2 separate regions of the Homo sapiens genome follow, and region 1 is linked to region 2. A link means that fine-mapping ties the variant in region 2 to the expression of a gene that starts in the linked region. Tissue or cell type: thyroid. Region 2 holds a variant in brackets; the other region holds the start of a gene. All regions are shown on one strand. Distances are between the middles of the regions.

Region 1 (8,184 bases), 32 kb after region 2:
AAGTATGACCCTGGAAAATGAGGAAAGCAAGAGGAGTCAGAGAAGCTAAGAGAAGAATCAGGATTTGCAGAATCACGGGATTAAAAGTAGTTTTCTTTCAAGAGTGCCAAATCTGACAGATCAGGACAGAGAAAAGGACTTTGAAAGCAGCAGAGATAGGCACAGCAGACCTACAACAGAATAGCTGAGGAACCAAGGTATCCTTCTTCATAGTTTCTGTGGCCTAATCTAATGCAAGGCTAGTGGAAAAAGCTTGATAAATATTGACTACTTGAACCACACAATAGCTGCCACATCTTGGGCTGAATGACTTCTGCAAAGTGCCTGAGTCCCTTGCCATATTCCACTCCATGTTGAGTTTCTTAGCCTGTTCTAGAAGAGAAATTAGTAACCCTGGCTCTGAAGTAGTGGTAGGGAGAGCTCACAATCAAGAAGGAGCTGTTTCCTCAATCCTGCAGTCTTGGGCCTGAGGCTAACCTCTTGCCTGTCTTTGGGCCATCTAAGTGAGACGGAAATCCATGTCTGTTTTTAACAGCTCCAGAGGCAATTCCTCAACATCTCTTGGTAGTCTGTTCTATAGTCTCTGAAAACCCTTGCCAAGGTCAACTAGAAAATAGGCCCTTGTGACCCAGAGTTTCTAAAAAGCTCACTTGACAAATTGAGTAATGAGTCAATCAAGAGGAAAAATAAAGTCAGAGATCACCCTGCTTCTGGAAGGACCGAGTCATCTACAGCTAAAGGAGTGGATTGTAAAGGGGACACAGAGGCCAACATCCTGGAGAGTGCACAGCACAGCTCTAACTCAGGGAACTGAGGAGCTCTGTCATGCCCAAGAACATCAGAAGCTTGAAGTACAAAGGATCATTTGTTCTGTGCCCTGAGAATGAACTCCAATGAAGTTATTCACAAGGAATGATTGTTGTCAAGGTCTTGTCATTGGAGCTTTCCCATTTTCGTGGTGTCTAGAACTGATAACCCTTGAGATCATGTATAGTGCTCGAAGACAAAGGGCATCACTTAACATCAAGGAGCCACATTAAGAAAAGAGTGGGGGGACAAAGAGGTACAGTGCAGAAAGAATTAGAATAAAAACATATGCTTGCTGCAGGTATTGAGACAGAGCTTATAGGGAAGCTTATAGGGAATGTCAAGGGTCCATGTCTGTGAATCATGTTACATTTTATTGGCATTCTACTAAATATGATGTATGGGAAATGTTGTATTGGATTTTTAAGAATACTTTTAGTCATTCAAATGTTTATTGAGCAGCACCTAGGTGCCACGCACTAGGCTGGGCAACAGGGCACGATGGTGCATTCTCTTGAGGAGTGAACAGCTTATTGGGAGAGACAAGTGTGAGCAAGGAACTGTGAAACAGCTTTAAAGGTGTTAATAGAAGCAAGGGACTTACCATGAGGAGACAGAAAGAGAAACTTAGAAGAGCAGCACAGAGAAACTGTTGCAAATTCTGGGGATTTCATTTGAGCTACAGATAGCCCTGCATTGGCATTTGCAGACTGAATATGCATGAATGATAAAAACCCCCAGTGAGTAATCCAAAAGGTCCCTGTCATGAGGTAATTTGCTGAGACACAAATTTGAATGGGGCTGCCAGGAGGCCAGAGTGTACTTGCCAGCCACTCAGCTAGTGAATGACCACTCCTAACACTGGCATTTGTGTCCCAGTACCACTTAGCTCTCCTTACTTTCTCATCGACATCCGCACAATAATTCTCATACTGTGATCAATTTTTTCTTCACAGAGTCAGGGAAATAGGGCGTTAATAAGGTAAAGATATAAGGTAATGAAGTAAGAAGTTTATTTTAATGGCAAAATTTATTTAAGTAGCTTTAGAAATTACTTTGGCCCCATATTCATAGAACCATTAAGAGTCTAAAAAGATTCTTTACATTTTTCAGCTACACTTTACCGTACTTTATGGTGGAAATTATATGCCATGATGACATTCATGATTTTGGAGACTCACCAAGGTCATGGATGAACCCTCTGAGAATGTCAAGGGTCCAAGTCCATGAATAATGTTACATTTTATTGGCTTTACTAAATATAACAAAATCTTATTTTAAGTTTGAAAAATAAGATATTCTTCCTTATGTGATTTCCCTATATTTTGGGAAAGGCTGCCATTCCCCTCCCCGTTTATGAAGGTTTAACATGTGTCACCAGAAGACAAAGGAGTTATTTATCCACAAAACTGCAGCCTGACAAGCAACTCAAATTAAGAAACATAACTACATTCCCCAATGAAATGCTTTCCTTTTGGTCTATTGCCTGGAACCTAATAACCACTGAAACTCAAACTCTGACCCCACCCTGCCCCCCAAATACCTCCAAGAACCTCGAACTTAACATGACATCACCCACAGTCCCAAGCTGCTTCCCCTTCTATCACCTTGTTCAGTTACCAAGTAAATACATTTACCTCCTAAGTGATTCTTAAATGCAAATGCAGCCAGGCCTCTCCAGCCCCACAGCACTGCCCCAAGCTAGCCGAGGGTCAAAGTATCTGTCATCACAATATTCTGAAACGCTGCCTCCTCTATTCTCTATATGGATGCAGAGTAATTTTTCTCAAAATGCATGGCTTGCCTTCATTGGCTTCCACTGAAGTTTAAGATAAGGTCCTATCAAGAGAAGACACTGGGCCCTACTAGAGGGTGAAGGGTAGGAGGAGGCAGAGGATAAAAAAAAAATACCTATTGGGTACTATCCTCATTACCAGGGTGATAAAATAATCTGTCCAACAAACCCCTATGACATGCAATTTACCTATATAACAAACCTGCACCTGTACCTCTGAACCTAAAAGTTAAAAAAATTATTCACCAAACCCAGTGATCAAGGTTAATAACACCAGTAAAAAGTCATATTGCTATCATGTACCCCTGACATAATGCAATGAGAAGGCACTTCATCTTCATGGTATTCATCCCCCAAATCCAAAACCCTGGTCTAATCATGAGGAAACATCAGATAAATGCAAATGAGGAACAATTCTACAGAATATCTGACCAGTCCTCTTTAAAAATGTCAAGGTCATGAAAAACAGAGAAAGACTGAGAAGCTGTCACAGATTGAGAAGAATAAGGAGATGTAATGACTAAATGCAACATCATATCTTGGATTAGATTCTAGAGAAAAAAAGACATTAGTGGAAAAACTAGTAAAATCAAAATAAAGTCTGTAGTCTTAATTTTAAAAAGAAAAAAGATATGGTCTATCAACAACCAATTGATTCTTGGACAGTGATTCTGATGCCCATGGTCGACACATAACACCTTGAGAAATGCCTTGACTGTGAGTTGTTTCTCCCCCTCAGTACAGGATGAGTTCTTTCATATCTCTATGCATTTTGCATTTGCCAAATGCTGGTCCTGTACTACTCATTCACCTTTCTCTTTTCAGTGAGACTCTACAGTCTGTCAGTATTCAATTTAAATGTCACTACTTGAGCAAAGTCACACGTAAATCTCTCAGTGGCCAGAGAGCCACTGAGTGGCTCTCTGACCACTGAGGGATTTACATGTGGCCAGAGATTTACATGTCTGGCCTTCCACGGCACTGGATACACAACCCCACTAAAGCAGGTGTCACAGTTTACTATAATAACTTGTTAACAGGTTTATTTTCTCCAGTGATCCATGTGCTCTTTTTCAACTTTGAATCCCTAGTACCTAGCACTATGTTTGGCTCCTGCCAGGCAGGCAGTCAGCCTTTGCTGAATGAAAGGACCAGTGATTGAGGTCTGTGGCTACACGGTAAAATGAGAGAGACGAGTCATCAAAGGGAAAAACTGCTTTTTTGTTAACTATAAAGTGAACCAAGGTGTCAGAACAGTTAAAACAAGGATGAAGAGTGCTTTTAGATCTCAATCAATTTTTAAATTACTCGTCACACCTGTCCTAGCTAAAGACTAACTCTAGCACCTCCTGCGGCCTGTTAGTCAGTATTTCACACTTGGGCAGCAGATCCAGCAAATGTTCAATGATCGCAGAAGAAATACTTAGAAGCTATTGGCTTTGAAAATAAAAATGTAAGAAGATGCCTAGTAAAAGCATCTGCTAAATATTCTTCCTGTTTGGCACATTAGACTGCAGTATCAGACACATGACCGTGGTCATACTGTACACAATGCCCAATGTCTGCCAAAACTCTGGCATATGAGAGACTTAGTGCTGGAGTACGGAGGGATTCTTCCGGTATCCCCACTACACACAGTGGTGGAAAGAAGAGCTTCCAGAACAAACCCAGTCAGGCAAAGAGGCAAATACACTGCATTTAGTAACGCTGCTGGAGCCCGCCCTTCACCCTTTCTGAAGGTAGGATACTAAAAGGGCTCAAGCCTAAATCTAATCCAACAAGCTATATTCTGAATAACGACCAATCTCTGATAAAGCTGTTCCCCTAACCCTTCTGCTGCCCGAAACACTCACTCTACAGCCCCTACTGGGCTACCGGGTTCCCCACTGGACTCTGGACAGCGCCGCGCCCTGCTCGGCCTCACCCACCCGGTGGCGCTTGGGCCCGCCCTAGTCCCCCACCCCCACCCCAGGGCACCACCTACCAGGGCCCCGCCCCGCCTCAGCCCCACGTGCGGGGCCCCACCCCGGCGCTAGCGGCCCTTTAAACACCCCCACCCTTACACATTACCCCCCCCCCACCCGGACGGCAGCCGAATAGGGACAAAACTCATGGCGTACAGCCAGTTTCCTCCGCGGAGCACGTCCTGTGCTGCTCCAGCCGTTGGGGCTCTCCACCCCGGGCCACAGCCTCCTGGCGCCCCCCGGGCCGAGGCAGCCGGGCCGAGGAGTGTCGGTGTGGTCCGGCTACGGGGCGGGGCCGGCGGGAGCTCCGGTCGCCGCCGCCGCCGCTGCTGCCTCCGCCTGCCTCTTGGGCCGCCCGCTCGCCCGCCGCTGGGTGCGCTGCACGCGGGGGGCAGCCGTGGTGCAGAGGTTCATGCAGCGGCGGCGGCGGCGGCGGCTGCTGCTGCTGCCGCCGCGGAGGCAGACAGACCGGGCGCTGCCACCGCCGCCCTCCCCCGGCTCCATGCCGCCGCCGCTGCCGCCTCCTCCTCTCCGGCGAGGGGCGGGGGGCTCCGGCCCGGGGTGGGCACCATTCCTCGCAGCGCCGCTCCCCTCCCTGCCCTCCGCCCGGGCGCTGGAGCCGGCGAGGGCACCCGCCGCCTCCTAGGAGTGCACCCTCCGCGCGCCCTGCCGGAGCGAGGGGGCGGGCGTGGGCGGACGTCGGGGCAGCGGGGACCCCGCGCGGCTGCAAGAGGAGGGGGCTTCCCCAAGGATGCCCGGCGGCTCCCCGCTCCTAGGTGCGAGCTGAGTCTGACCGGGAGCGAGCGGCGCGTCGCCATGCCGGCGTGACGGGCGCCCCCGGCTGCCCGCGCGGGCCCCCGCGCTGCCCCACGCCGCGCCGTGCCGGCACCGGGCTGCAGGATGGGCTGTATCCAAAGCATCACCTGCAAGGCGCGGATCCGGCGCGAGAACATCGTGGTGTACGATGTGTGCGCCACCATCGACCAGTGCCCCACGCGCATCGAGGAGACCTCGCCCATCGTCCTGCGCTACAAGACCCCCTACTTCAAAGCCTCCGCCCGCGTGGTCATGCCCCCCATCCCCCGCCACGAGACCTGGGTGGTGGGCTGGATTCAGGCGTGCAATCAGATGGAGTTCTTCAACACCTACAGCGACCTGGGCATGTAAGCGACTCGCCGCGCGGCACGGGAGCGGACTCTGGGCCCCCAGCTCTGCTTGCCACCTTGACCCCCCTCCCCAGCTCCTTCCTACTGCTGTCCCCATCGTCTTTCTAAACCTTCCTCCCGCCTCCTCTCCCACCTCCCTCCTCCCTACGCTTTTGTTTCAGTGACAGGGCGGGTGTAGGGAGGCTCCTTGCGAAGGCATTTTCTCGTGGTTTGCTTCTGACTTCCCAGAAACGCGAGGAGAAAGGTGCGGGGCGGGAAGAACGCGACAAGGAGGGTTCGAGAGGCGGAGGTGGGGATGGCTGGCGAGTGCCTGGCGAGTTTCAGGGCGCCGTCTGTGCTTTGTGGGGCTCCCCGGGAAGAGTTTGGGGGAAACCATAGAGGAGTGGAGTGGAGTGCCGGGGGCGCATGGGCTGTGCCGCGCGTCCTTTGGAGAAACCGGAGCGGGCTTGGAAGAGCAGGTCCCGGGCATCCGAGCGGGAGTTGGTAGTTCTGTCCTTGCCCTCGCGACTGTTGAAGTTTCGAACCCTTGTCCCCCGGGCCAGGGAGCCCGGAGGCGTTTCCGTCTGGAACCACAAGCCGGACACAGTTGCCTCTCTGTTTCCGCGCCCCCTGGACCAGTTCTGGTGGGGAGCTGGAAGGCACCGAGTGCGTCCCGGCCAAGAAGGGCGGATAGCCTTGTGCGAGCAGCGTTCGGCTGGCGCGGCGCGGGGTGTTTCTTATGCTAAAGGAAAGGATGGATCTCTTGTCTGTCTAGGGTCCTTACTTTTTAAAACTTTCCTAATTGCGGCACTGGAAGGGATTCCCCTGGCGCCCACCGCCGAATTCTATCGGCGAGCTGGGAGCTCTCCAACTTTCAGCAGCGCCGGTTGGTGCGCGCCGGGCTTGGCTGCTGCGGTGAAGACCAAGGATCGCCGCGGCTCCTCAACCGCCAGGGGCCGCAGGCTACGGGCGGTCGCGTCCGGGACTTTTATATTTACCAAATTTTCATAACTCCGCACCCGCCTCCTTTCAGAACTAGACTCTGAGCAGGTGGCAACGACAATAGCTAAAAGGTTTAGGGCCTGCCTTCTACCTGCTGTTACAATGTAGGTCTAGAACACCCTAATTAGCCAGTCTGCAGCCTACAGGGAAACCCTTTTTCTGGAAATTCAACCTCATTTCACTTATTAATCTAAAACTCTAGAGCTCCCAAGGTTCGTCTATTTAATATGGATATGGGGTGGGGGAGTTCCCATTTTAAAAGGTCAAACCATCTTTTTAGCAGCAGTTTGCAGGCTTTTTATTGCACTCTGAGAGCATGTCAGTTAACACTAGTCATAGGCGCTAAAAGAAATTTGACAGGTCGTTGTTTTCCTTTTTTCCTCCCAAAGATTTTGCACTTTTCTCTTTAAGCACAAAAGCTTAATCCTTGAGAAAACTCAATTCCTAGTGAAGAAATGTGAGGCCCAGTTTCCAATATGCCTCAGCACACTGTATTCTTCCAGAGAAGACAGCTAGATGTGAGAAATGGGGGATATTTTATTTGGGGCGAATCATGCCATTTAAAAACTGACATACCCTCAAAAGAATGATTATATGTGAACACATGTGTCTCTTAAAACTGCTTTTTAAAATAAATCCATTGTTTCCAGCCAAGTCAGAGAAAGCCACAGGCAGGGCAAGAGCCCTTCCTCTCATTTCCCTGGCCTCACCCTGATGGCAGTGGGTTGCTGGAGGACAGCAAGTGCTCCCCACAGCAGCCTGGGGCCCCTGGTAGAGGAAGCCAGGAGTGACTGTGCAGAAGCAGCCTCACTTTTCCCAAGACTGCACAGCGGAACTCTCTGTTGCCTCAAATCTCTTATGAATAAGTAAAAGCAAATATATAAATACAGAATTATTTCCGTAAAACTTACTTTACCTTAGGAGAAGTCAAGTTGAGATATAAACAGACATGGTAGTTGAACTTCCTGGAATCTATAGGGAAGGTATGTCCTCACTGGAACCAACTTTAATGGATATGAATCAGTGACAGGATTCCTGACCCTTCCCCACTGAATCCTTGCATTTGGGATTTGGAAAGTGGTTTTGTTTTTAAACTGCCACTTTTGATATTTTAAGATTCTTGGTTTTCATGTAGATGTAGGAGAGCAAAAATAGACCCCCAATAAATCATAAAGCATATTATTATAGATTTGTGTCCACAGTCTACCTGTTTCTTCATGGTTGCAATAATTGCTATGTGTTAAAGGCCACTTTGGAGCCCAAATTTGAATGAACCAATTTCCACAAGATATTTATGCCTGGAAAATTTTGCTAGTGTAAACTTTTTAATGGGAATTCATATTGCATGAAAGTTGCTGCAGTCTATTAGTTATTATGTCTACTTTAGCCAATATCTGGATTGTAAAAAATAGCATGGAGTGATTTTTCACCTCTGTGCAGTGTTCTGTCACATGAACCACAATATGGTGAA
Region 2 (8,184 bases):
TATTTCAATCTGACCTCTCCAACATCATAAGGAAAAATGTCCATTTGACCCAAGCAAACTTCTTCTAGAGGAAAAAGTTATATATTTAAATATGCATATATTTCTAAAATCCTAAACCTTATTTTTCTAATTCTAATTTTCTTAAGTCTCTGTACATATATGACATACTAAGGCAGAAAGGTATGGTGACCAGCATCATCATTTGAATCAGTACTCTTGGTTATAAGTGACAAAATCCTATTCAAACGGCTCACACAATAGAAAAGTACAGGCCCAGGCTTGTCTTTAGGCACAACTGAATCCACGTATTCAAACAATGTCAGCAGGAGTTTGTCTCTCTCCATCTCTTGGCTCTCTTTTTCTCTGTGTTGGCTTCATTCTCAGCTGGGTTCTTCTTCAGCAGTGACAAAGAGACCGGAAGATCTAGATTTAGTATTTTAGCAATCTAAAAACCCAAGAGGACAAAGAGCTTTTTTTTTTTTATTTCCTCCTAATAGTTCCTGCTAAAGTCCTAGGGTTGCCTGTCTAGTTGACCTAGGTTGTCTCTCTAGTTGACCGAGAGTTGACCGAGCTTGGGTCACATGCCTATCCCCGAACCAATCACTGGAATTCTAATTGTCCAGGCCTAGCTCCGGAGCCAGGGAAATGAGACCAGCCCTACTTGAAACACAGAAAATAAAAGCAGAGATGGGAAGGGGTGCTGCCCCAAAAGAAAATCAGGTGATATTAACAGAGATGGTAAATGAATGTGAAAAAGACCAGAAAGACAGATGTCATCATCTCTAGCTGTCTAAAATAAGGTTGAATAGAGCCACATATGATGGGCTATCAGAAAGAAAGTTATTAAGCCTTTTGCCATTATCAATGCTATGCATGTGCTTAATGATAATAGATGAGATGCAGTGCCAGTGAGCAGTGGCAGGAAGGGAGCCAGCAGGGCTGGGAGTGGAAGCCAAGTAGCAATTCATCTTACAGCGTTAAGAGTTCCCCCAAGTCGGTTTTACCAAACAAGATGCCCAAACTGACTCAGGCACTTTTCAAGTTGCAAAACTTGCTCTCAGACTCAGCAGATACATTTGAAACAATTTTATGACCAGCAGTTAAACAGGAGGAAATTAAAGGTGAAAAATCAAGGATACAGCTTCATGCATAAAACTCAGCCACACAATTAATGGAGCCCACATTAATCACACATCAGTTAGGCCTCAGTGGTTTGATAGTTATTCGTTGGCAGAAACAAACCGCATTCTGATAGGCAAAGAGGACTGATGCAAGTATAACTGAAAGACTTAAATGTAGGGTTCCTATCATTAATTAATCAAGTAATCACTCTCTTTGTGGTACTTGTGTGACATTTCGTAATTAGTTTTTCAGTGTTTCTCTCGCTCTAGCTTAGTTCTTTATTACACCCCACACTCCTTTATCTAAACGTTCCAGTGGAAGATGAGATGTGTTTTTAATAATAATAAGACCTTGTATTTGTAGATCACTTTGTACTTTATAAAATGGCTCACCGGAGTCTTCCAGCAGCCTTTGGAGATAAGCAGGACAAATATTATTCTCCCAAGTATCTACTGAAGTGTCTTGCGTGGAGTCAGACTCAAATAATTGCCATCAGAACCTGATTCTCTTGCAGGGGGATTGAAGTGCCTTCTCACTGTAATAGTGGAGCAAATGGAGCTTTGGTTCTGGGATAAGGTGCAGACAGGTGGGGCCACATCATCAGAACAGAACCACCATCAGAACTTACTCCTGAGGTCATAAGTCAGTCATGCATCACTGCAAAGGTGTTAAATATAATTGGGCTTCAAGGGAAATCTCCCTGGCTTATTAATAATAATCCTATACAGAAGAAAGTAAAGCAATAACATGGAAAACCCAAATAGTTATATTTCATAACATAATTTAAAAGTACTTTAATGATGCTTCCTGTGGTTTGGATTTCTTCATATCTCTTTGAAATGCATTATCCCATTTAGTTCTGAATCTATATAGACTGGCAATACCTGTTTCTCTATGACTCCAAAAAATATTATAGGACAGAGGCAAGGTCTTGCATTGCTAGGAGACCTCCCCTATCGTTCCTGTATTTTCAGCTCCATCTCAGAGCTGAAAATACAGTAAATGTATTCAGGAAGTGGTTCTTTGTTTTAAGTAGAAAAAATATTGCTTCACTGAATTAATGCTGGTTAGCTTTTTGCATGACTCTGAGGTCTACTGTTAGAACTACCATCCTTAAAATAATAGTTATAAAAGCAAAGGCAGCTGAATTCACTCTAAATTGTTCACTTATTCAATCAGTCTACACAATTTTTCAAGGACACAATGCCAGATTCTAAAGTGAGACAGAGTAGATAAAGATGAAATGTTACAGTCACTAACCTCAATGGCTGGACATGCAAGCTAATCATTACAGCAGCAGCTACAACAACAAATAATAATAGCATATGTTTCTGAGCACTTACTGTAGGCCAGTCACCCTGCCAAGTGCTTTTCCTGTATTGATTATCTTAATTCTTACCATAACCACTGAGGTAAGTATTATTATTAATGTCATTTTACAGATGAGTAAACTGAGGATCAAAGTGGGTAAGTGGCTTGCCCAAGTTCACATGGTCAGTTAGAGGTGGAGCTGGAAGCCAAGCTCAGACAGTCTGACTCTACACTCATACTCTTCACTCCACACCATGAATACGCTAGTCATGGCATGGATCAAGTTCAGTGGTTGCACAAGGAAAAGAAGCAGCAAAATATCCATTTTGCTGAGTTAGCTAGAAGGAGTTAGCTAAGCATCACAGGAGACTTAAAGGATTGATAACATTTTGTCCAGGGCAACTAGATTGGAAAAAGGATTTCAAGAAAAGGAAACAGCATGGCTGAAGCACAAACCAGGAGGAAGCCTGGTGTGTTTGGAGATACACAGCTAGATGTGAGTGGCTTGGGCTTTGAGCGAGGTTGGGAGGAGTGGGAGCCAAGACCAGTGAGGAAGGCAGGATATGTATCCATGTCTTCATTGTATAAGATGCCTATGTTATCATTTTCAGATATAAAACAAATCTGTCATTTAGTTTCGGCTAGTAGTTAACAGCTCTCACTGAATAACAGTGTGAACTTGACTTCAGCTTGCTGGGATCTAGTTTCCTTGATGAACTGGCTAATTTTACTGCCACTATTTAATGTCAAACATCTCTCATACAAAGACTTTAATATGTTTGTTTTGTTCTTCTTTTCAATCCTGATGGGGATGTAAAATGATAAAAATTATGTATGGAATCTAAGCTAATCAATTTAGATTCATGAATTTGAATGCACCAAAATGTATCCTAACTCAACATAATCACAAATGTGTATAAATGTAATCAATTTTAAAAGAGTGAAGGAAAATATACCAATAGTTTTAAGAATTGCCTTTAAATACTGGACAATTTTCCATATTTTCAAACTTTTCCATAATAAGCATGTGTCAATTTTAAGAATATAGAAAAAAAT[T/C]CTAGAATGGAGAGCAGACTTTTTTTTAAGTCAAAGTAATGAATGCACATAGTTCAAAAGTCAAATTTTGCCAAAGAACTAGCAACAAAAACAATAGTTTGCCTTTTGCTCTCACCTTCAGTCTTACCTTCCCAAAGTCAACCCACTAACTCAACATGTTTATTCTATAGTCACATAGAAATACTGTAGTTCTTTTGTGGTTCTATGGTGTATATGAGTTTCTAAAAGATTTAACTCATTTATATCACCTCCCATCTTTCCTCCCCAATTTCCCAATACAATTATAGCACTATATTTAGTTCCTGGTTCCTGTATTGTTTCCTTCCTTTTGAAAGTTTAAGTAATAAACATACACTATGTCTTCTTATTTTGCCAAACATAGATAGTCTCTCTTAACACTGCAGTGGGTACAAAAAGAACCCTGGTGCTCTTAGCCTTGCCCTAAGCTCTTCTACCTCCCATCTTCAGGATTGCAACCTTAGAGGATTCAAGTTGATAACATTTACATTTGGCTTGGTAATCATAATTCCATCATCAATACTTTTTCCAACAATTCATTCTAAAATACTAAAACTAATAACAGCATTTACAGTATTGTGACTATGTAAACGTTAATTCATGGAGGAGCCAAGTAGTATTCTATGAGTATAATTTCTTTCCTACACGTTTTTATTTCTCCTGATTCTAACATTATTTTTAAACTTTCCATTATATCAAGTTTTCTAGGAAGTCCCCCTTTTGCCCAGGAGACCTCTTTCCCCAGGCTCTACATCCCTCCGCTTTGACCTGGATGTTTTGTTCTGTACGTGTCATAGAAAGAGTGTGGTTGATTCCCCCATTACATTCTTAGTGAGGATTTTCCTGAACACCTTCCCTAAAATTTAATCACCCTCCCAAATACTACCTAGTCTCTCTTCTGCTTTGTCTCACCAGCACGTACGACCATATAGCATACAGATATTTTACATACTTACTTTGTCTATTGTCTGTTTTCCTAAATCTGAGCTCTGTAAAAGTTGGAAGTTTTGTCTGTTTTACTTTCTGCCTTATCATCAGTGCTTAGAACAGCGCCTCATACACAGTTGACACTGAATGGAAGAATCAAAGCTACTCCATCTCCTTTGCTAGACACTTCTGGGAATGGGCAGCTGTAGGCCACTTTGGGCAAATGGGATGTGAGGAGAGACTTGCTGGGAAGGAGAAGTCAGTACTCTCCCACTAGGTACAAACAAAAAGCATTGCTTAGGTTGCTCTGGCAGTCATCTTGACCAAGAGGAAAAGCAGCCTTTGGAGAAGCCAATACCAAGGATGGCAGAACAGAGAGACAGTGAAAGCCTGGATCTTCATTGATCTTCGAACCATTAAATCAACCTGAGAGCCCTCCCTGCCTTTTTGTTATCGTTTTCATGCCAATTTGAGTTGGATTTTCTGTTACTTTCAGTCAAAGAAGCTTACCTGTTACCTGAGTTCCACTGAGCACACGTCATCTTAGGTAGCCCTTAACTGATTTTCTGAACCTGAGTCATACTATCATGGACCCCATGTCTTTCTCCTTTGATTTACTCCCTGCTTTTACTAGAACACACACTGGATGATTTTCTAAGATATGTATTATGGAAATAATGTTTCTGAGTCATTGAATGTCTTTCAGTGTTTTAATTTCCCCCTTATACTTCGTTGATGAGTTGGGTAGATATGGGATTCTGGGTTGAAAAATGATTGTGTCTTGGAATTTTGAAAGCAGCACTCATATTGCCTTTTACCACCCACTGTTACTGATGCTATATTTGGGCGATCTAGCTTTATTCTAGGAAATAGGATAGACACATTTAGCAAATAAAAATACAGAACATCTGATTAAAATTACCTTTCAGATAAACAATGAAATATTGGGGACGTGCTTAATCTAAAAAAAAATTATTCATTGTTTATATGAACTTCAAATTTAACTGGTGTCCTATATTTTATCTGTCAACCCTACAAGGAAAGTTTTTAGTATATTCTCTTTATCCTTGATGTTCTGAAATTTCACAGTATTTTTAATTGTGAGGGTTTTAATTTTTTATTTTTTAAAAGCTCATTATATTAATGCCAAATGTGCCCCATGAAAGAGGGTATAGTTCTTGTTGACATGTTTAGTGGGTGGATCACCACAGTCTACAGGCTCCAGCCCTCTGTCAGCTTGGGTTTGAGGAACCAGAGCAAGAAAAAATATATATAAACAGTTTCATCAACTCCAGAGTTTGAAAATCTTTAGAGAAAATTCCTTTCAGAGCAGAGCCATGGGGAGATTGTAGTCTACTCCCTATAGGACCCTGTAGTCTAGTGGAATTATCTGGTTTCAAACCTGGTCACCCAACTGGCATTTCACACAAGCATCAGTGAACAACTTCAGAAAAGGGCCAAGAGTTCAGGCTAAAGAGCCTTGCTTTGTAAGTGTGAATAATCTGGACACATCCCAGATTTGCCACGTAATTGCCCTGCTGTTAACCTAGCAGAGAGATATACTATCTCCAAAGAAAGAGACAATTTGTTTGTGAGATACATATTTCCTGGGCTTATCTTTGAGTGAACTAGCTAGAAAGTAAGTGATAAGGCAGAGAGATAAGAAATAATCAATTTGGAAAGTAGGGGTAAAATCAGGCAAGGTAAAAATAGGTCAAAGAAATTAGGAGGAGAGCTGCAGAGTCAGTAGAGAGAGGAAGTTTTTTAAAATGACTTCAGCATTGACTAGACATGACCTTAGAAATAATCTAATTCAGCCCCTCATTTTACTAGTGACTATACCAAGGCTAAGAGAGTGGAAGAGACTTGCCAGAGTCATGGAACCTGTTCCCTGATTCCCAGTCCAGTGTTTATCCCACTCTATTGCTGCTGTTGCTTGGGACCTATTGCACAACAGCCCTATTTAATCATCTTGACAGCTTCTGAGAATGATAAACCTTCTCTACAATGATCTCACTCAGCTCAGGCTAGCAGCTTCACCAAATGTCCCATTAAAAGGCAAATGACTCCAGGTGGGGATTTCAGGGAGCTTGGAAAAGATACCCGTAACCAAAAATATTGCCCATACTCACCTACCTATGTGCCTAAAATTATACCTTGAAAATGTTGTTGAAATGCAAATGACTACTTTTTACATTTTGCTTCGATCTTTGTAGAGGCTTCTTAACAAAGAAGGGTTTGATGGTATGTGACACAGGACAAATGCATTTTGATTGGACAGAGGTAGAATGATTAGATGTATTAGGATCCATCAGGTACAAATGGCAGCAGGTGCCTACTTCACCATCACTATTTCATATAAGAACAAAGCAACAGATTGCTTTGTGCTCTAATCATTTTCTTGTCATCAGACTTCACTCTTGGTGTCTGATGTCACAGTAAGATATTTTAGTAGACCTGGTTTCCTTGATTACTTGAATAATTCACATTTTGTATCTGAATATAGGATGCTTTCAGCAGAATAAAGTCCCTTTAAATGGCAATTTTGATTTCAGCATCAAGAATTGCTATGTCTGGAGTCAAACTTGAAAATGTTACTTATCATCCATGAAGGTCATTGCCTTCTTGTCTAAAAGTTAAGGAAGATGAAGTTTGAAAGTTGTCCATTGGTTTTGTCAATGAAGAGAAGATTTTAACCAGAGTAGGTGTAACAAAGTAGTAAAGGCCAAATTAGACTGCTATATTTGTTGTTAGGAAGTGAACCCAGGTGAAAAAGTGATGAGATTAATGTAGACAACTTTTAAGAAGCTTGACTATGACCAAAAAGAGAAAATATTTTATTGAAATGTTTGATTGAGTATTGGTTGGCTGGTTCGTTCATTGGTTGGTTGGTTGGTTGGTTGGTTGGTTGGTTGGTTGGTTGGTTTTTAAAGGTAGGAGACACTTGAGCATTTATTTTAGCTTGGAGGGATGAATCAGGACCTCAGCTCCCTCATCTGCATATTGCAGACATGCTAACCACCATAAACAAAGAGTCTGTCTAAGATCACCTGGCCAATTGGCCAAAGTACCAGAATTAAAATTTAGGTCTTTCAACGCTTTGTTCCCTTGGGCCCATGTTGTCTCTCCATTTTGCAAATATTCTTGGTTTTCAGTGGGTCATAAGAGGATCAGGAGGTCATTTCTATACAAAAGCATTTGCAAAGAGCTGTAAAGTCCTCTTGGGCAGGGCAGGAATAAGGAAAGCAAACACTTGATGAAGTAAACACTTTCCATATGCTAGACACTAGGGTAATCACTTTACTGGTAATAAGTTATTCAAACCTCACAGCAACTGTATGAAGTAGGTAAAGTTATCTTTCTTTCACAGATAAAGAAACTGAGGCTCAAATAAATTAAGTGACTTGCCCACAATCACATGGTTAGTAAGAGCCAAAACAGAGTCTTAACCACTAGATTACACTATCTCAGGGGAATGCAGAGTAATACTGATTTAGTATCACTAATTAATAATATCTTAAATTGTCATAAGTCATTTTTTCTAAGCACAGTCATATTTACTTTCCTTTTTTGTATAATTTTACTTTCAGAGCAACCCTGTGAAACAAGTAAGGTAGAGAACACTATCCCCATCTGAGAGTAAGGAAATTAAAGCACACACTCTCTCTCTCTCCCCCCTCCCCCGCTCTCACACACATACACACAACCATTAGGGAGGGCAATGACAGAGCCTGGGCCAGCTCAGTGGCC

What was found. PIP is the estimated chance that this variant, and not a neighbour inherited with it, causes the effect.
Region 1: it holds the start of FAM78B, and the variant in region 2 is fine-mapped to the expression of FAM78B in thyroid (GTEx, PIP 0.98).

Annotation. Positions count from the first base shown.
Region 1 is chr1:166,163,531-166,171,714 of GRCh38, reverse strand. FAM78B (family with sequence similarity 78 member B) reads left to right here and starts at 4,714. Exons shown (of 2, transcript NM_001017961.5): 1 at 4,714-5,729. The coding sequence starts at 5,467. It overlaps LOC112268276 (a long non-coding RNA gene), which reads right to left and starts at 5,838. Exons shown (of 3, transcript XR_002958633.2): 1 at 5,661-5,838. RefSeq lists enhancers at 1,460-1,539, 5,454-5,503, 5,604-5,773, 4,945-5,847 and silencers at 2,380-2,439, 4,474-4,963, 5,004-5,063.
Region 2 is chr1:166,195,528-166,203,711 of GRCh38, reverse strand. The region is part of intron 1 of LOC112268276 (a long non-coding RNA gene); the gene reads right to left. Among named protein-coding and RNA genes, the nearest start is that of FAM78B, 33 kb to the right of the region's middle. The variant T/C (reference allele first, on the strand shown) is at 3,490.